5 linked regions of the Homo sapiens genome follow. The protein of the gene in region 1 purifies or fractionates together with the protein of each later gene. This does not show direct contact. Each region holds a gene or a part of one and is shown in the gene's direction. Other genes may lie near its edges.

Region 1 (4,062 bases):
CCGCCGGCGCCCCGCGGTCACCGCGGGGGAATGGCGCCCAGCCCCGGGCCAATGAGAGTAGCGGAATTTCTTTCATTCAGCGCGGGGCCAGGCTCCTGCCCGGAAAGGGGCGGGGCGCCGCGCCGGGGGTGGGGCCGCCGCGCGCGGGGGGAGAGGGCGGGGCCGGCCCCTCTGCCTGGCCAATCGGCGCCGCGCCCGGGGGGGGAGGGGGGCCCAGGCCTTTTTTCCCCTCCGCGCGGGACCAATCCCGACTTTACAAGCTTGAACTTTTGCCACCCTCGGACTAGCGAGCGCGCCCGAGGAGGTACCCCGCCGCGCCGGCTCCAGGGGCAGGAGCGGCCTTAACCCTTCCCGCGCCGGGCGTCAGGCTGCTGCCGCCGCGCCCCCGATCCCGCCCCCAACCCACCCCCATTTTCGCGTGGAAACCTCTCTAGGGAAAGCGTGATCCCTCACCTACAGCCCTCTCCGAGGTGCGGAGAGTAAACTTGAGAAGGGAGAGGAAGCACCCGGCCTGGAGGGGGCCCGGCCGGCCGGCGGCCCGCCTCGCTCCAAGGGAGGGCCGTGGCGACCGAGAGGAGCCAGCGAGTAGACACTCCCCGCCTCTACCCCACCCTCTCCATCTCCCCACTCCGGGCGAGCCTGGAGCCACCGTACGCAAAGCGTCCTGAGCTCCCTGTTTGGCCCGGCAGAGCGACCCCCGACTTTGTGCAAGGAGCGTAGAGCCCCTAGTGCAGTCACGGAAGATCCGCTACCCCAACATATCCGCCGCCCCCTGCTCCTCAGAGGCTCAACCCTGGAAGGCACACATGCACACCCATTTTTATTAGCCTACCCTAGGATGGGGGTTTGGAACAACTTTAAAGTGCAAAGTGTGTTTGTAAGTTTGTGCACAAGCCAGGGAGAGGCAAAGCGCCCCGTTTGCGTCCGAGTCTCAGTGGGTCCGCCGAGCCTTGCGCGCCTGCTCGTGGCTCGTGTAACCCTGTGTGTGTGTGTGTGTGTGTCCGCGCGCGCGTGTGTGCTCGCTCGCATCCGTGCTCTGGGCGCAACGCGAGGCAGAAAGCGGGCCGCGGGCGCTGTCAGGCCCTGGGCGGGGGTGCCGGGGTGGTGTGGGGCGGGGGCCCGAGCTCGGCCCGCCCCGGGAGCCGGCCCCTTGGAGCCTCCGGCCCTGCAATGGGACGTGTTCTCCTTTAAGAGTTAAGAAACTTGAAACCTTGTTTGCGCAACAATCAGCGCCGCGGAGCCGCCAAAGTGTCTAGACTGGCATATGATGGGAGGCAGCCAATGACTCCGCGGCGCTCCTCCGGGGGCCCTCAGTGTGCGTTTGAGGAGAACAAAAAAGAGAGAGAGAGCCGAGCGGGGGAGCGATCGAGGGAGCTGAGCCGAGAGAAAGAGCCGCCGGGCGCTGCCTCGCCAGACCTCGCTGGGACCCCGGGGCCACCGGGAGGCACTTTTGTGGAGGGGGGAGGGGGGGCGACCTCGGCAGCCTCGGCGCACGAAGCGTCCGAGGGCAGCGTGGGGCGGGCTGCGACCTCTGCATCGGTGGACTGCATTTTTAATTAAGGATTCCCAGCAGCTCTTTGGGATTTTTACAGCTTCCACTCATGTGTTGACACCCGCGTCCAGGAGAAACTCGCTCCAAGTGCATCTAGCGCCTGGGACCTGAGACGGCGTTGGCCTTTCGTGCATGCAAATCCAGGGATTTAGGTTTTGTTTGGGATTTCCTTTTCTTTCTTTCCTTTTTTTTTTCTTTTTGCAGGGAGTAAGAAGGGAGCTGGGGGTATCAACAAGCCTGCCTTTCGGATCCTGCGGGAAAAGCCCATGTAGTTAAGCGCTTTGGTTTAAAAAAAAGGCAAGGTAAAGGCAGGGCTTTCCAGACACATTTAGGGGTTCGCGCGAGCGCTTTGTGCTCATGGACCAGCCGCACAACTTTTGAAGGCTCGCCGGCCCATGTGGGGTCTTTCTGGCGGCGCGCCGCCTGCAGCCCCCCTAAAGCGCGGGGGCTGGAGTTGTTGAGCAGCCCCGCCGCTGTGGTCCATGTAGCCGCTGGCCGCGCGCGGACTGCGGCTCGGCGTGCGCGTGTTCCCGGCCGTCCCGCCTCGGCGAGCTCCCTCATGTTGTCGCCCTGCGGCGCCCCTTCGACGACAGGCTGTGCGCGGTCTGCACGGCGCTCCGCGGCGGAGCTTCATGTGGGGCTGCGACCCGCGCAGCCGGCGCCTCGCTGAGGGAACGGACCCCCGGTAACCGGAGACCGCCTCCCCCCCACCCCTGGCGCCAAAGGATATCGTATGTTCAGGTCCAAACGCTCGGGGCTGGTGCGGCGACTTTGGCGAAGTCGTGTGGTCCCCGACCGGGAGGAAGGCGGCAGCGGCGGCGGCGGTGGCGGCGACGAGGATGGGAGCTTGGGCAGCCGAGCTGAGCCGGCCCCGCGGGCAAGAGAGGGCGGAGGCTGCGGCCGCTCCGAAGTCCGCCCGGTAGCCCCGCGGCGGCCCCGGGACGCAGTGGGACAGCGAGGCGCCCAGGGCGCGGGGAGGCGCCGGCGCGCAGGGGGCCCCCCGAGGCCCATGTCGGAGCCAGGGGCCGGCGCTGGGAGCTCCCTGCTGGACGTGGCGGAGCCGGGAGGCCCGGGCTGGCTGCCCGAGAGTGACTGCGAGACGGTGACCTGCTGTCTCTTTTCGGAGCGGGACGCCGCCGGCGCGCCCCGGGACGCCAGCGACCCCCTGGCCGGGGCGGCCCTGGAGCCGGCGGGCGGCGGGCGGAGTCGCGAAGCGCGCTCGCGGCTGCTGCTGCTGGAGCAGGAACTCAAAACCGTCACGTACTCGCTGCTGAAGCGGCTCAAGGAGCGCTCGCTGGACACGCTGCTGGAGGCGGTGGAGTCCCGCGGCGGCGTGCCGGGCGGCTGCGTGCTGGTGCCGCGCGCCGACCTCCGCCTGGGCGGCCAGCCCGCGCCGCCGCAGCTGCTGCTCGGCCGCCTCTTTCGCTGGCCCGACCTGCAGCACGCCGTGGAGCTGAAGCCCCTGTGCGGCTGCCACAGCTTCGCCGCCGCCGCCGACGGCCCTACCGTGTGCTGCAACCCCTACCACTTCAGCCGGCTCTGCGGGCCCGGTGAGCGCGCTGCGCCGGCCGGGGGGGCCCCGGGTCCCCGTCCCCATCCCCTTCCGTGCCCTTCTCTCTGTGACACTGCGGGTCGGCGCAGCTGCGGGTGCTCCCCCGGGTGCCCTTGGAGCGTGGGAGCCACCAGGGGAGGCGCCTCAGACCGGCCGAGGGGAGTGGGTGTCCCAGCACACACATCAAGTGGCAACTTTATCTCAAGGCTCCGGTAAACTTAAAAGGGTACATGTCGTAGTTTTCTCTGTGCAGTTTCAGGGACATGATGTAGGCTCCAACTTCATAGGCAGTGAAAGGGGAGGGCAGGCCAAGGAGAGACCAAAGAAGTAGGTGCTATTTCCTCCTACCTCAATTCCGGAATCTACCCCAGTCTGTGCCCAGGCTTCTAGCATTTGTATGCACGTGCCCTTACCCACACTGTGCTTTTCTATGTCCAAGTAGCTGTAAGTTGTGAAATTGGGTGTACACAAATCATAGCTAGAATCAAAAGTGTTCGTCAAATGTCCAATTTGTGCCTTTGCATACTTTCGACAAAGCTTTGCAGGGTAACCCCTCTCTGGAGTAAAGAGCACCCTCTTTATTCCCCACATAATATCATTCCCCACATCCCTTGGGTGTCAAGTGCCAGGGTCTTCCATAGTCCTTCTCAAGTTTTGTGTTCAGCTTTTGTATAGAGTTTAGGGTCTTGGAGGCATCCGTGAGTAGATGAAGAAGCCAGATACTGGATTACCTCTGAGAACTGCCCCCCTTCTTTGTTCTCCTCTTGGGATTTCCTGCACACGCCCCACCCTCAGCCTTGCTTACCTGGCCAGGCCCTGGTGCTCAGGTGCAGACAGGCAGAGGCCCCAGCAGGTCAGGAGGCTCCAGCAGGCCAGGAGCTTGCAGCTGCCTTGCTCTGACCTCTGTCTTGTGGGGAACACACACTTTAGCCTGTAGCTAGCCTCTGAGGGATGTATG
Region 2 (4,178 bases), on another chromosome or scaffold:
GAACTAAGCTTCTCTAACATGTATTTTCTCTGTGAGGCATATCACTATCTTCTTGCACTTAGGAACTCTAGACAGCACTTCAGCACTACTTGTGGGGGACCATTTTATACAGCAAAATCATCAATGAAAAGCATGACACTAAATATACTGCAGAAAGGATAACTTGTTTACAGTATGCCAGCTGAAACAAGAAGGCAGGGTGTTGCCTTGTTTGACCTCAGTTGGGAATGCATGTGGTGGGTGTTTCAGATGTTTCACTATTCTGTGCATGGCTGTCAGTGAGCAGGAAGGTACCATGAATGTTGATATTGGGGTTACAAATAAATTTGCATTAACCATATTTTGTTAGAACTGTATACAAAAGTGGTAGAAATAAAATTGTAGAATTTCACTAAACCAGAATTTTAATACATGTAGTTAGAAGTCCCATTTCCAGACTGCAAACTAAACATATGCATGTTGAGTACCTACCATGGTGATCTAGGGCAGTGGTCCCCAATCTTTTTGACATCAGGGACTGGTTTCGTGGAAGATAATTTTCCCACAGGGGAAGTAGGGGAGATATGATTTTGGGATGAAACTGTTCCACCTCAGATCATCAAGCACATCAGGCCGAGGTGGGTGGATCACCTGAGGTTGGGAGTTCAAGACCAGCCTGGCCAACATGGTGAAACCCCATCTCTACTGAAAATAAAAAATTAGCCGGGCATGGTAGTGGCAGCGCATGCCTGTAATCTCAGCTACTCAGGAGGCTGAGGCAGGAGAATAGCTTGAATCCGGGAGGCGGAGGTTGCAGTCAGCCGAGATCACGCCACTGCACTCCAGCCTGGGGAACAGAGTGAGACTCCTCAAAAAAAAAAAAAAAGAAAAGAAAGATCATCAGGCACATCAAGCATGTTAGATTCTCATAAGGTGCATGCAAGCTAGATGCCTCGCATGCGCGGTTCACCGTAGGTTTCCCACTCCTATGAGAATCTAATGCCGCCGCTGATGTGACAGGAGGCAGAGCTCAGGTACCCGCCTGCCACTTACCTCCTGCTGTGTGGCCTGGTTCCTAACAGGCCGTGGACCAGTACCGGTCTGTGGCCCCAGGGGTTGGGGACCCCTGATCCAAAGGGTCCCTTGACACATATTTATTGAGCACCTGTCATATACTAGGCATTGTTGCAGGTGTTAGGGATACAGTAGTAAACGAAAGGAGACAAAATTGCCTTCTCTCAGAAAGCTTACCTTCTGCCAGGTGAGGTGGACAATAAACAAAAGTATAAAATGTAAAGCAGTTGTGCCTACTACAGTCCACCTTCTGCTCCTCACTTCCCCAAGATTCCCCATGTTTGGTGTACACACACCTGCTTCAGGTATTCAGTCAAATGCTAGTCTTTGTAGATAGAATTAAGGTCTCAATCAGTTGACCTTTAGCCATCTAAAGGAGGTTATCATGGTGGGTCTGTCTTGATTGAACTAGCCCTTTCAAAGCAGAGAGATTTCTCAGCTGATTGCACAAGAGGAAATCAGATGTTCCAGCTGGCTTGGAAGCAAGCAGACGTCCATGTTGTGAACTGCCGATCCCAACAGCCACATGGCAAGGAACTGCAGGCAAACTCTAGGAGCTGAGAGTGGTTCCCAGCTGACAGCTAGGAGGAACATGGGGACCTCAGTCCTTCATCTGCAAGGCAGTGGATCTTGTCAACAACCAGTAAGCTTGGAGGAGGACCCAATCCTAGATGAGAAGGCAGCCCTAACTGGCACTGTCGGTGCTGTGCCTGGACTTCTGACCTGTAGGAACTGTGAAATAGTAACTAGGTGGTGGTTTAAAAAATGTATGCATTGGGTGGGGGTGAGTCAAATGGTGATGGTGAAAATAGGTAAAGCAAGAGAGGGGAATAATGAGAAATACCCCAAGATAGGCATGAGGGTACTTGAGACCTGGTGCCCAGCCATCCCATCACTCACATATAAAAATAAATCCTTTGACCACATGTGGCTTTCATCTGACTATAACTTTTTTCTAGATATTTGTGAGTGGAGGGGAGAGGGGATTGTGGATGCTTTGGAAATAAGTTTTTTAGGTGCTTGGGATGTTTGAGTTGAGGAATCTGGGAATTGAAGTATTTTCTGGGTTTTTTTTTTTTTTGTGGTAGAGGACTCACCTTGCCCCACATCCTTGTATATTGCTTTGGTATATGTTTGCATATTACCTTTTATACCTGTAGAAGATAAGATTGAATTGTAATCAGTCAGTGTTCATTTCTGATATCCAGGATGTGCCTAGCACCAAGCTGAATGCTGAGAGGGATCCTGAGGAAAGAGTCTGTCCTTGCCCTTTGGAAGTTTACACACAGAGACCGGCCACAGTGGCTCATGCCTGTAATCCCAACACTTTGGAGAATGAGGTACAGGGGATCGCTTCAGTCCAGGAGTTTGAGACTAGCCTGGGCAATATAGTGAGACCTCGTCTCTACAAAACATTTTTAAAAATTACAAGGGCTTGGTGGCGTGTGCCTGTGGTCCCAGCTACTTGGGAGGCTGAGGTGGGAGGATAGCTTGAGACCAGGAGATTGAGGCTACAGCAAACCATGATTGCACCACTGCACTCCACCCTGGGTGACAGAGTGAGATCCTGTCTCAAAAAAAAAAGTTTACACACAAATGGACTTTTTTTCTGCTTGTTGGAACTACCACAAACTATGAGGAGTTCAGGTGACAATTGTAATAAAAGCATCTGATTTGCTGAATGTTTACTATATACTAAAGTATTATGCTAAGCACCTGTGTTGTATCATTTACTCTATGTAGTTATTCTTTGAGGGGCTAGGGGCTCTTATTCCCATTTTACAGATGAGAAAACTAGGGCATAGAGAAGTTAAGCAGTGGGTCCAAAGTCTATCCAAGTCCAAAACATGTGCTCTAAATATTGTACTGTGCTATAAACTGTGAGTACTGTAAAAGTGACCTTCTAACCAGGCTCTCTGCCTTCAATCTCCCATTTGTTTTCCATCCTACGGCTAGATCTAACTTTGGAAATGCACCCTGTTTGTCTGACCTAGAGGTTGTGTGGCTTCTAGGATCAACTCTAGACCCCTTAGCTTAGCATTGCAATCAGTTTCATCTGGTCTTAGTCTCCCTGACTCTTCTTGCCTTTGGCTGGAACCTTGGCATTGTTCGAACTGTCAATTTACTCTGAACCCAGTGTAGCTAATATTTTTTCACAGCCCTTTGCTTTCCCTTTTCCTTTTCTCTGGAATGCTTCTCCCCACTTCTCTTCCTAGCCAAACCCAGCGTCCTCCAGTGTGGACCTTCGTCCTCTTGTGTTCTCCCGGTCAGTGATTCCATCCTCTCTGCTTTTCCCCTCAGCCTGTATTGGTAGTTGGAGTTGCACTGTTTATAGTTGTCTTCTCCCACTCTCCATGCCCAAAGAATTGGTGCGGGGAGCTGGCTTATTTGTTATATGGCTTCGGCCTGCACAGAGCCTTGCATGTTTCAAGTACTTAATAAGTTTGTTTAATTGAATTAATTCATTTCTTTTCCATCCTCTCAGTAAAATCCTAGGTAAATAATTCCAATTCTGTTTTGCTCTAATGTTATTATAATCTTGTATATATAGTATTTTAAACCTACTCAAAAAATGCCGCAAACATTTGTGAGTTACTTGGAACATCATAATCTCTCTTTCTACCTCACCTCTTTCATCTCTGTTTATCCTACCACCTACCCATTTTATTCCAGCCAAATGAACTTGATCTCTCAACCTCATTAGTTTTATTCTCAGTTTGGCTGATTTCTTTTTTCCTTTTCCATTGTCCCAGTTGCCTGAAACAATCATTCCTATCCCTCTTCTCACTCAAAACTGTGACATACACGGTCTCCTCTCCATTCGTCCATACTATAATAAATAGGTCAGGAAGAAAATACCAGGGATAAATATCCTTCCCTGCTCTATTGAGCCAGAAGTATGTTTATTCAGACTCAACAAAGAAAACAGTGGTTTTACATGTTCATCATAAACTGATATCAAAGGAGAAATGCAATTTCCTGATTGTCTAAATATGACAGCTGAGTCTGCACACATAGGTCCCAGGAACATTGGACACACTCCCTCATAATGAGGCCCACTCATTTCAGTCTTACCTTGACATTCTCTTGGGCAGCAGGTGGGCCCTTGCTAGATGTTCAGGTAT
Region 3 (4,178 bases), on another chromosome or scaffold:
GGAAGAAGAAACAGCTGTGTCTTAGCTGGGGCTGCCATAACAAAATACTGTAGACTGGTGGCTTAAACAGCAGAAATTTATATTGTCAAAGTTCTGGAAGCTCTAAGTCTGAGCCCAGGGTGCAGGGTGCTGGCATGGTTGGGTTCTGGTGAGGACCCTCTTCCTGGCTTGCAGATATCTGCCTTCTTACTGCATTCTCAAATGACAGGGGTGGGGTGGGGCAAGGGGGTGTTTTCCTCTTTTTGTAAGACTGTGAATCCTGTTCTCATTACCTGATGGCCCCACCCTCATGACTTAATCTAACCCTCACTACCTCCCAAAGGTCCCGTCTCCAAATACCATTACACTGGGGGTCAGAACTTCATTGTATGAATTTTGGGGGGACACATTCTTTCCATGAGATGGAATGAACTTCAATAGTATATTTTACTGGCCTGGCACAGTGGCTCATGCCAGTAATCCCAGCACTTTGGGAGGCTGAGGTGGGAGGATCACGAGGTCAAGAGATCGAGACCATCCTGGCCAACGTGGTGAAATGCGTCTCTACTAAAAATACAAAAATTAGCTGGGTGTGGTGGCACACGCCTGTAGTCCCAGCTGCGCCAGAGGCTGAGGCAGGGGAATGGCATGAACCCGGGAGGTAGAGGTTGCAGTGAGCCGAGATCATGTCACTGCACTGCAGCCTGGTGACAGAGTGAGGCTCCGTCTCAAAAAAAAAGTATATTTCACTGAATTTGATATATACAAAGTAATTTCAGCCTGAGATCAGTATTAAAACGAGACATTTTGCATTCCATTTTTGTACTGTCATCAAAATCCAGTGTGTGCCTTACAGAACATCCTCAACTCTAACTTTCCACATTTCCAGTGCTCTGCAGAACATTTGGTTAGTGGCTACCATATTAGACAATGGAATCTCAGAAGGGAAGGTAGAATTTATGGTGTAATAAATGTCACATGGTGCTTGTCACAAGATCAGTCAGTGGTTAGTTGGTTCTTTAATAATTCTTCAAGTCTTTTGTGGTCTGTGCTTGGCCGAGTGTCCTTGGGAAACAAGCCATTTGGCTCTTGCATTTCAGTGGACATCCTGGACACTCAATGCTGTATCCTACAAGAACTCCTGACACCTGTCTCTGTACTCTGTACTTGGGGTTCAGATCAAAGGGCTTATGGGGGTGGGGTAAACAGTATTCTAAGTGAAGTGACCAGAGCTCTTGGAGAGGGACCTGCCTCCTGTCTATCCCATCAGGAAGTGCAGGCCCTGATTACTCTGATAGGCTGACCCAAAGAAGTTTCTTGGCCACTTCCTTGGGGGAGGGCGGAGGGAGTGAGCTCATGAAGTGAAGTGACTTTCATCCCTCAGGCCTAGTGTAGCGGTAGCTGCCAAGGACATGGGCTACAGAGCCATGGGCCGTGGGTGCCCCTCCCAGAGAAGAGTGTTTTCTGCTACCTGTCCTTGTATCTGCTGGGCACTCGAGGCTCTGCCCTGTCTGGGTGGGCTGCCTTTTGGGAGGAATGGGTATCCTCCCTAGCTCTTAGGGGCCCTTTCAAGGCAGATGATGTGAGAAACCTGCCCATCTTTCCAGGCCCTATAGCTGGGTAAAAACATAAGATCTAAACCCTATGGCCTCCCATCACTTGGGTGGGCCTCTACTGTGTACTACTCTGTGGGTCTTTCTGGGCATCAAGAATCTCCAGAAGCACCTGGACCTCTGCTGGCACTTCACCTAAGGAACTCCTGTTATAAGGAGCCAATGAAGAGCCCACATTCTATACAGTGGTCCTCCATGTCATAGACCCCTCTGAGAATCTGATGAAAGCTGTGGACCCTTCCTCCAGGAAAATGTAAATCGGTATATGTGTGCATGTGTGTGTACATTGTATGCACCCACTCTGTTTTGTACAGATACTGGGAACCTACTGCCCCCTGATTAGACTCCTTGAAGTCCTGGCTGCCCTGCACATATCCACTGTAGTAGTCTTAAGGGGCAGCTTGTTCTGCGGGGGAGGGGTGCTTTTTCCACCTTGGTACCTCACTTACTTTGCCTTTTGTGATCCTGCCGGATGTTCAGATTCTAGCCCTGGTCTCTCTTTCCAGAAAGCTGTCCTCTTGAGTGCCAGCCTATGCATTCAGCCCCTCTGCTTGGGAGCTCAGGGTAGTGCAAATGAGAACCAAGGAGTATCGGTTCAGGAGTTTAGATCCACTCACGGATACTGACCTGTCACCATGGATTGGGATCTGGAGGGTTGAGGACTGGGTCTGGATAATATTTTTGCTAGTGACTGTAGATAGACTCTAGATAGTCCTGAGGCAGGGTCCTGGTTGCATGGGCCTCACTGTAGAACAGGGTTTCTCAACCTTGACACTATTACATTTTGGGCCTGATGATACTCTGTTGTGTATGGGTAGTGGTGGGTTGAGCTGTTCTGTGCATTGTAGGATATTTAGCAGTATCCCCGCCTCTACCCACAAATTCCAGTAGATCCTCTTTAATCATGTCAACCAAAAATGTTTCCAGATCTTGCTAAATGTCCCTGGCAGAGGTGAGAGCAAAATCATCTCAGATTGGGAACCACTGATCTAGAATGTTCTCACGCTTTCAAAGAGGTCTACAGTTGTAAGAAGTAGGGGTAACGGCTTTTGAGTGCATATCCATCCCCCCACTCTGGATGCAGGGTTGGAGGTGAGGTTCTCCTCAAAGCCTAGGAGATTCCTGCTTAGTGAAATCTGCTCAGCACGTGAGAGTTTGGTTCAAAATTAGTGGTTCTGGTGTACAGCTTACCACCGAGGAGAATCCTGGCGTCCTTGAGTTTTCCCAGAAGTGGTTCAGGTTTCAGGGAGGCGGAGGCTGTGGGTGGCTGGGCAGCCTGCCTGCCCGCACCCGCCCACTCGCCTCTGACCGTTGCCTTAAGGCTGGCACTCAGCCTCTTCCTCCCGTACACGCAGAAATGCCAGGAAGTGCCTGTTGCTGGGGACTCTCTGCCTGCCCAGCAGCCCCTCTCTGCTCACCTGGGGGCCTCAGGAGCTAAGGCTAGCCCTGTCTGCCAAGCGGAGCACTGGGGTTGTAGCAGGCCGTGGGCATGCCCCTTCCCCTGAGTGGACCTGCCATGTGGCGCTCCGGGGAGCCGCAGAGGCTGTGGGCCTGGAGCCCCCAGGCCGGGGACACCAGGGCAGGTGGGCAGCCTCTCCCCAAAGGTATGGGTGCAAGTCTCTCCCTCAGGGTGTGGTGGCCAGATGGGAATCTGAGGGCAGGGCCAGGCTTCCTGCTGTGGACCTGGGGAGGTGTGGGCAGCGCTGCCTTAGACAGGCAGCCGACACTGGAGGCCCTGGTGGAGCGGTTGGTATCTGTGGAGGCTTGTCTATTGGGCTTGGCAGGCTGGCAGCCCCCTGTGGCTGCCCCCATGTTTATTTTCTACTCCTCCCCTGGCCTGCTTCAAGCTTGGCTAGGGAACGCTTCTGTGGGACTCTGTCTGTCTCATCTTGAACTCAGTGAGACACAGTTTGCTGCACTGGGAAGTGATTACAAACTGGACTCTTAGGGTGGAGGAAGCATTTTTCAAAGACCCAGTTTCCAAGTGCTCCACATCACTGGTATGTGAAGTGCTTGCTGAGGTTCAGACTTCCTAGTTCCATCTGTTTTTGGGGTCTTTACAAAGGGGACTTTATTTCCTTCTCAGAATTCTTTCTCTTCCTTCCCTCCGGTTCTATCACTAATTCTGTGTTCCAAAACAGACACCCACCCCCTTGTTCTGGGCTTTCTTTTTTGGTCTCTCATTCTCTACCAGACTTACGGGTCCATCCCAGCCCTAGAGGTGCCTATTCCTTGTGGTCCTGGGGGTACTGCTACTGAATGCCCAGGTTTTCTGGTGGTGGAAATGCTGCTGCCTTCTTCTGACTCTATTACATTGCTCAGTGATGTCTCTGACTAAGGCAGTGGTAGGTACTGGAAATCAATGGATAAAGCAGGCTGGGATTGTTCAAGGGTCAGCCATGTCTCTTCCCGGCCCAGGACCAATAATGGCTTCCCGCCTTCGGACAGCCCCATGCTTTCCCCTGGTTATTCTAGGCTTGCTGTACACATGCATGTGCCTTTTTCAGATTCTTTCTGGGACTGGCAGCTCCAACTGGGTGTTTTCATTCATGGACGCATGACCTCTGGAAGCGGGTGTGGAAAGGA
Region 4 (4,178 bases), on another chromosome or scaffold:
ATTTGATTTAAGTTCAGCCTCTTCTGGGTTGTCAGAATGTCACTTTTGTATTTTAAGAGTTCTATCATTTCAGAATATGATGTATTATGGTTTTCTAGTAGGTCAGGTGGTAAGGACTGTAGATAGTCATTATGCTTCGTGGACAACTAATGTTTTTAGGCAGAAGCTTCTATAGCTGATAAAGATTTTAAGCCAAAGACTTAGAATTGAAAACTAATATATACATACACATTTTACCATAATACATCAATGTAGACCTATCCTAGTATTTATTAGGTTAGAAAGGCTTTTTGGATTATTTTATTATACAGATATATTTAACTGTAAATATTAAAATTTCATAATGACTAATATATGATGGCACTGAGGTGGCTTTAGGAGCTCCTTTGGGGTGGGGGCGGGAAACATGTTATTCCAAAAGTTACATTTATGTCTTTGAGGACAGTAAAGCAGATTTAAAAGCCAGTGAGAAAAGGAAGAAAATCAGCAAAGTGAAGAAAACCTGATGAAGATGTTTTTAAATAATACAATGTAAAGATTGTTGGCAGCATTTATATATAAGGGACAAAATTCTAGTTGAAGTCTATAAACAGTGAATTCCACTTAGCACTTTCTGTTTATAGATTTCTAGCCATCTTTTCCAGATTCCCTCTGAATATATTACACAGGCAAAGTAAATAGAAGTCATTCTTTCAAGGGATTTGGGTTCTTGGAGATTTTTTTACACTTGTGGTAGTGGGGGAGGGGAAGTGCTTATTATATTTTCTTAGTTTTAAGTGTGACCTGTGCCATAGAATATTTCCCTAGACTAATGTGTGGGAACCTCAAGACAAGAATTATTGGTCATTGAAAGATCTGGATATGATTTCAAGTTCTGCCCCTAGGTTTTTTTTTGTTTGTTTGTTTTTTTTTTTTGCATGTTGTCTTGAGTAGATCACTTCTATTTTTCCTTCAAAGGCTGAAAATAACTGCCTAACATACTATGTTTAGTAGGTCCTAAATACTTTTTGTTGTTTAATGAATTTACAGGTAATAAAGAGAAAGCACAGTGTTTCTTGAATGGATGTCAGGGAATTTCTAATTTTTTTCTTTTTTGATAGAAAAAAGTAATCAAAACATAAACATCTGATTGGAGTCTTTCAGTTAGCTTACCTACCTTCAGAAATAAGCCTAGAGAAAGAGAGCTTCATCTGGTAGTTTAACAGAAATGAATTGTAAATGACTCTTAAGAAGAATTGACAATTTTTCGGAATGTTGTACTAGATGTTTTAGATTCTTTTTGCCACATAAACTCCACTTCAGAGAAATGGGGTTCTACATAGTACTCTTGTATCGCCCCTGTAATACCTTTACACCTCAAAATACCAGTTGCAGAAAAATAGAATGTGTTGCTGATGCCTATAAATGGGAAAATCCTGACATCTGTCTTCATCCTCCAGTTAATCTTCATGTAGTTTTTAAAAAAATTAATTCAACACACATGTAATTTACTTCCTTTTCAGAAAATTTGTTGCTAATTTTTATTTTATAATGAGCCTCTTGGGATGTTGCTAATTCTAAAAATATGTAATACCCGCGGTTTCCCACCATCTTCTGCAGTTTCTTTTTCTATTATTTTTTTGGCTACAGTTTTCTTTTTCCCCTAAGCTGTCTAAAATAAGCTAAGAAATGTTTAAATGTAGTTGACAAGAAACACAGTCAGTAATTTATCATGCTAAAATTTCAACATACAAGGTGCAATGAAATCTGTTTTAGGGATAGTACACTTTTGAAGGGGGCTAAAGCAGGGACAGCAAATAAATTTCGTTTGGGGTACCAAATCTGATTGTTTAGTGGTGGCTGCCTAGAGTGCTGTGTTTAGAAAACTGGGAGTCCTTGTTCAAACTTAGCAGGAAAGAGTACTGTGATTAGCAATTTCTGCTGTTGGTGAGCGGTGGACTTTTGGCATGGATGCCAAATACATTCAGTGTTTATTGATGCCGTTTACATGTCACAGGTCTAGATGCTGATACCTCATAGACTAAAATCTCTGCTTTCATGGTGTTTACATTCTAGTAATAAGACACAAACCATAAAATAAATAAAATACATTGCGTTTTAAGAAAAATGGCTGGGCGCAGTTGCTGACACCTGTAATCCTAGCACCTTGAGAGGCTGAGGTGGGAAGATCCCTCTTGTCCAGGAGTTCAAGACCAGCCTGGGCAACGTGGTGAGACCTTGTCTCTACAAAGAAGTTTCTTAAAAAATTAACTGGACGTGGTCCCAACTACTCGGGAAGCTGAGGTGGGAAGATCACTTAAGCCTGGGAGATTGAGGCTGCAGTGAACCATGATTGCACCACTGCACTCCAGCCTGGGCAACAGAGCGAGACCCTGCCTCAAAACAATAGAAGTTAAAAAATAAATAAAAGAAAAATGACCTGATTTATTCAAAAAATTAATAGCAAGAAATAGGGAGGGAGAACTATAAGATTAAAAGAGACTTAAGAGGCTTTTCCACCAAATGCAATGTATGAAGCTTAGTTCTATCCTGCTTTGAGCAAACTAACTGTAAAAAGACATTTATTCAAAATTGGGGAAATTTAGACTCTGGATATTTAATGAAAAGGATTTGTCCATTTTTTCAGGTGTGAGAATGTACTTTTTAAGTGTTCTTTTAGAGATGTATAATGAAGTGTTTACAACTTAAAATGTGATGTGTGGGTTTTTACTTCAAAATATTGAAAGGGAGAGGAACATAGATGAAACAAGATTGGCCATATATTGAAAATTGCTGAAGGTAGATGCTATATGGATACATGAGGTTTCTTACTTCCTCTTTATTTTTGTGTATGTTTGAAATTTCCCCTAATAAACAGTTTTACACACAAACAGGAAAATAAAGCAGGGAAGGGGAAGGGAGAATAAATGGGATATGTGTATGAGGTTCGGAGGAGGATGCAGTTTTTTGCTTTTTGTTTCTTGTTTTTTGTTTTTGAGATGGAGTTCTGCTCTCATCACCCAGGCTGGAGTGCAGTGGGGCGATCTCAGGTCACTGCAAATTCTGTTTCCTGGGTTCAAGTGGTTCTCCTACCTCAGCCTCCTGAGTAGCTGGGATTACAGGCACACGCCACCACGCCCAGTAGAGTTTTGTATTTTTAGTAGAGACAGGGTTTCACCATGTTGGCCGGACCGGTCTGAAACTCCTGACCTCAGGTGATCACCTACCTCCGCCTCCCAAAGTGCTGGGATTACAGGTGGGAGCCACCACACCTGGCCAAGATGCAGTTTTAAAGGGTAGTGAGAAAAGACTTCATTGAGAAGATGATAAATAGTTAAAGTGAGTAATGACCTGAAGGAGGTAGCACAGCAAGCCTTGCAGGTCTCCTTGGAGCAAGACATTATACACAGAGGGAATAGTAAGTGCAGTGGCCCTGAGATGGGAGCGTGCCTACAACTGCAAGAAACTACAAGAAGACAAGGGTGTGAGCCAGGCATAGTGGCTTGCACCTGTAGTGCCAGCTACTCAAGAAGCTGAGGTGGGAGGATCATTTGAGCCCAGGAGTTCCAGACCAGTCTGAGCAGCATAACCAGATCCTGTCTAAAAAAAACAAAACAAAACAAAAAAAACTAGCGTAACTAGATCAGGGTGAGCGTGAGTACATAAAATCAGCATCAGCATGGGAAAGGAAGGTTAGAGAAGACTAAATTGTGTAGGGCTGGTTATCCATCTTTAAAGGAAAAATATTTTATACACTTATCTAAAATAAGTCTTATACTTTAGAGTAGTCACCATGGAAGCTATACACTTAACAATACTAGCATTACTCAATATTTTTAGAAAAAAAAATTTTTTTTGTCGTCTAAGCCAGTTTAAGAGCCACACGTGAAAATAGCTCATTACTTTGTATTTGCTCCTTGTTTTTAAGGAAAAAAGGGGTGATTGGCCACGTGATATTTCATGTTATTTATCAGATATGACTCACAGAGGATCTTGACAGAAAGAAAATGGGAAGTAACTTGAGGCTATTTCTAAAAATCAGATCCAGTCTGAGAAGGCAGTTATTGTTTGTAAAAGTCAGATCCACCCATAGACTAAAAAGGAATTTTAATAATGTTGTGGATAATTGTAGCATCATTTGGAATAAGGGTATATAACCTCTGAGAGTGACTAGTATGGAAGGCACCATACTAATTTGG
Region 5 (4,139 bases), on another chromosome or scaffold:
TGTTATAGCCTTCATTCTCTGAATAGGCCATCTTTGACTCATAAAATTACCCTTACTGTTTATTATAACTTCAGAAGTAATTTATAGTTCTGAACCTATAGTATCTTTTACCCTGTTCCCAAGCAAAGACTGGTGACTTTATCTGAAAATGATTCCTCTTCCCATGACCTAAAACACTGTGAGGAAAAATCATTCAAGTGGCATGCCAAGTCCCTATGAAGGAAGGGCTGCTATCAAACCTACCTTTTTTGAGCAAACTGAGACTAAACTTCTCTCTTTTCAAAATTGTGTTATCTTCCTTAATCCTATTTTCATAATTTTTCCTTTTGCCAGTTTTTCACATTATCTTTGATATGTGAGCAACATTTATTATTTACATTAGAGTATACCTTTTAGTAATAAAATGACTTGAAATCATATTATTTTTAAAAGCCCTTTGCTTCTTTCATTACTTATAATCTCCTCTAAAACAACCTCTGCATGTTTTTTTTAAATAAAGCACTTTCTGTCAAATAATGGACTTTTTTCTAAACAGAAATTATTTTCTATTAATTTGCAAACTGATGATTTCACTTTTTTTTACTTTTTTTTCGATTATCAGAGTACTTAGTAAATGTTATATAGTTTAGTTCTAAGATAGTTCCAGGGATTAAAAGGTTAAGAGGAAAACACAAATCACCAAATTTCTGATTTATGTTTTTATCTCCTGAACAATATTTTCTCACTCATATTCCTCTATCTTATCACTTAGCTAAAGACAGCCTAAATTTCCCAATTTTCTGTCCAAAATATTTGTGATTTACTTGTATATAAGCCTTCTCATTTGCCATGTGCTGTGATCTTACAAGTTAGATGTTACTATACCTACCATTTATTCAGCTGGATTGCTGAACACAGTTCTGGATTCATAGAATTAAGAATATCTTGTTAGTGCCCAGGATTTCCACGTTTTGTGTTTTATTGGCCCTTTTCTTTATTCAGCCCCTTAATCTATTTTCAGTCTTCTGGCACGTAATTTTTTTCACAGTTATTATTCTTCTATTAACAAATTATTTTTATCTTTCCTAGTACATTTTCACTTAGTTCTCTTGCCCTTAAATATCTTTCACATGCATTTTAGGATATTCTTTTCAAATATTTGTAGGACAACTTTGAATCAAAATAAATTATGTTCCTTCTCCAATTTGAAGCATTGAGGATAAATGACCATTTGAGGTCTAACTGATCTTTTCCTGCCAGAAGAGTTATCTTACGTTCTGCTATATTTGTATTTGGGCCAGTTGATTGTAGGTTGTCCAACATTTTTTAATATTGGGAAAATTATGATAAAATGCTTTAAAAATTAATATGCCAGATTAAAATAACTGAATAGTTTACTATTTCATTCAAGCATGTTTAAAACAAATAATTTCCTTTCACCAGTTTTTCTTAGTAAACTCCTGAAAAAGTAGGAAAGGTGGAAAGTATATATCATTTTTATAAATTTTAAATTGTACATCAGACTTTTAAAATCTGTAATATACAAGCAAGCAAAATTATTTTAAATGACTTAATTGTATGCTAATACTCATCTGATAATAAATGCTTCTTAAAGTTGACATTTAACTGCTATCACAAAGTTTTATATGTAGAAAAGTGGGGTCCTTTTGAATAAAAGATCATTCAACTAAAAATATTAAAATTTATTTCACTGGATGGTAATGTAACCTTAAAAGCATCATAATAGGTAAAGTCTAATATTAGTTCCCTTAACAAAATCCTAACTGTATACCAGAATTAGGTCACTGAAAGAACTTGATTTGAATTACGTTTAGACAAAAATGATTTAATTGTAAATTCTTAAAACTTTCTAAATGCATAATTGGCAAAAAAAAAAACCCACTGTTACCAGTGTAGGAAGTTACAAGAAGGCACATACTGAATGCTGAAGTATACATATGCTATTTCTCTTAAACCTCAGAGCAACCATATGAGCATTGTAATTAATATTCCCATTTTACAGATGAGGAAACTGAAGCTAAGAGAAGCTAAGTAATATGCCCAAGGTCCACATCTAGTAACAGACAAAGCTGGGATTTCAGTCTATGTCTGCCTCTCTCCACATCTCTTTCATCCATACCACACTGCCTACATGCCATATGACAGGATGTGTAATGGGCTAACGTTTATTTAAAAAGTTCAGGCCAGGTGCAGTGGCTTATGCCTATAATCCCCGCACTTTGGGAGGCCGAGCCGGGTGGATCATGAGGTCAGACGTTCAACACCAGCCTGGCCAAGATGGTGAAACCCCGTCTCTATTAAAAATATTTTTTAAAAATTAACTGAGCGTGGTGGTGGGCGCCTGTAGTCCCAGCTACTCAGGAGGCTAAGGCAGGAGAATCTCTTGAACCCGAGAGGTGGAGGTTGCAGTGAGCTGAGATCGCGCCACTGCACTGCAGCCTAGGCGACAGAGCAAGACTGCCTCAAAAAAAAAACATAAAAATTCAGTCACTATACTCTGGCACAATTTTCATTTGTATATGAGCCAAACCACATACCTTAATGATTTGGGAAGTTAGGCAAATATGAGATATGTAGACATATCTATGCTGATTGTTGCTTGAGAAATAATTACTAATTCTAGACAAAACTCAATCCTGTATCTTCCATCATGAATCTTAAAATCATTTCACTTCACTCCTAACATTTCTTACATTGCAGAACTAATGGTAAAGTAAATTTTACGGAAAAAGTTAAGATAGCTTTGGGAACAGAGACCTTTCCCTAAATTGATTCCATAGCAGATTTGGGGGAATTAACAAAGAATTTCAGTCTCATCAATCCTTTGAATCCATCTTCAAAACTTCTGCTTTTAATAACTTTAGAAAATTTACTAATCTATAGAACTAATTGAGTAGGATATAGGAAGGATACAAGGATATAATGTCCTTTTTATAAAAGTTTAGTATAGCTTCTTTACATGTATCCACTTGTTCCAGAAAATGTGCATTGGTTCTGAATGTGAAAATATTTAAAGAGAGAAAGGAACACTCAAGTAAGTGTGGGCTTCAGTGGGAATTATCACAAAACATTGGCAAGTATTTTTATTTAAATTATTTTCAAATTTGACTTCTACAGCCAAGTGGAATTGGTAGGCTGTAGCTGTTACACTGAAATTTCTAGTCTTTGTAAGTGCCTCCTGAAAGTCATTTAAAATGGAAAAATATTTCAATGAGCTTTTCCTTTTTTCATATTTATGGACATGAATATTTTATTGGAGATCATTAACTCCTAGAATTTGAGATTATATTTCCATACAACATTTTATAAAGTTATGTTGAACTTACTACCTGTTATGTGCAGGTTATTATGTAACTATTCACAGATTGCTTCATATATTGCTTTATCTTCCCATCTAACTTCTTAAAGTTAAAATCCGGACACACATGTTGATTATCTAGACCAGTCATTCTGGAAATTGTAACACTCCCACATAAACCCCAGGAGACTTTTTCAGAATGCAATGTTTCTAAATGTACTGTTACTGGCAGTTTACTCTCCAGCATATAAGGTTGCATTTTAACTTTTAGATTATGAACTGTGCAAACTTTACCCAAAACTATCTTGCATGATTCCCTCCTAAATATATTCCTTGATTAAGTAAATCTGGCAAATCACTGTTTGAGCTAGTTACATAAAATTTGTTATCAAGAGAAGGCTTTTCTACAAGTTTCCAGATTAACATAAAGAAAAGAGGGAATCACAGGGCATTTAAGTGCACCTTCCCATTACTTTCCTTAAATCACCTCATAGTTAGGCTGGGCGCGGTGGCTCACGCCTGTAATCCCAGCACTTTGGGAGGCCGAGACGGTGGATCACGAGGTCAGGGGACTGAGATCATCCTGGCTAACACGATGAAACCTCATCTCTACTAAAAATACAAATAATTAGCCAGGCATGGTGGCACGCGCCTGTAGTCCCAGCTACTCGGGAGGCAGAGACAGGAGAATCGTTTGCACCCGGGAGGCGGAGGTTGTTGCAGTGAGCCGAGATCGCGCCAATGCACTCCAGCCTGGGCTACAGAGTGAGACTCCATCTCAAAAAAAAACAAAAAAAATCACCTCATAGTTTATGTCTGACTTACTCCAAACCTCAGTTAT

What was found.
Region 2: the proteins of SMAD6 (region 1) and ACVR1B purify together in Homo sapiens (affinity purification with western blotting, with the first as the bait; one study listed by BioGRID). This does not show direct contact.
Region 3: the proteins of SMAD6 (region 1) and ACVR2B purify together in Homo sapiens (affinity purification with western blotting, with the first as the bait; one study listed by BioGRID). This does not show direct contact.
Region 4: the proteins of SMAD6 (region 1) and PELI1 purify together in Homo sapiens (affinity purification with western blotting; one study listed by BioGRID). This does not show direct contact.
Region 5: the proteins of SMAD6 (region 1) and BMPR2 purify together in Homo sapiens (affinity purification with western blotting, with the first as the bait; one study listed by BioGRID). This does not show direct contact.

Annotation. Positions count from the first base shown.
Region 1 is NC_000015.10:66,700,974-66,705,035, forward strand, and holds the start of SMAD6 (mothers against decapentaplegic homolog 6), read left to right. Parts: upstream 1-1,262; 5' UTR 1,263-2,285; coding exon 2,286-3,102; intron 3,103-3,118; exon of another isoform or gene 3,119-4,062. UniProt on the Homo sapiens protein: Transforming growth factor-beta superfamily receptors signaling occurs through the Smad family of intracellular mediators. SMAD6 is an inhibitory Smad (i-Smad) that negatively regulates signaling downstream of type I transforming growth factor-beta.
Region 2 is NC_000012.12:51,957,795-51,961,972, forward strand, and holds part of ACVR1B (activin receptor type-1B isoform a precursor), read left to right. Parts: intron 1-1,465; exon of another isoform or gene 1,466-1,696; intron 1,697-2,261; exon of another isoform or gene 2,262-2,393; intron 2,394-4,178. UniProt on the Homo sapiens protein: Transmembrane serine/threonine kinase activin type-1 receptor forming an activin receptor complex with activin receptor type-2 (ACVR2A or ACVR2B).
Region 3 is NC_000003.12:38,456,494-38,460,671, forward strand, and holds part of ACVR2B (activin receptor type-2B precursor), read left to right. Parts: intron 1-2,937; exon of another isoform or gene 2,938-3,081; coding exon of another isoform or gene 3,082-3,196; intron 3,197-4,178. UniProt on the Homo sapiens protein: Transmembrane serine/threonine kinase activin type-2 receptor forming an activin receptor complex with activin type-1 serine/threonine kinase receptors (ACVR1, ACVR1B or ACVR1c).
Region 4 is NC_000002.12:64,137,525-64,141,702, reverse strand, and holds part of PELI1 (E3 ubiquitin-protein ligase pellino homolog 1), read left to right. Parts: intron 1-916; exon of another isoform or gene 917-4,178. UniProt on the Homo sapiens protein: E3 ubiquitin ligase catalyzing the covalent attachment of ubiquitin moieties onto substrate proteins. Involved in the TLR and IL-1 signaling pathways via interaction with the complex containing IRAK kinases and TRAF6.
Region 5 is NC_000002.12:202,560,971-202,565,109, forward strand, and holds part of BMPR2 (bone morphogenetic protein receptor type-2 precursor), read left to right. Parts: 3' UTR 1-4,139. UniProt on the Homo sapiens protein: On ligand binding, forms a receptor complex consisting of two type II and two type I transmembrane serine/threonine kinases.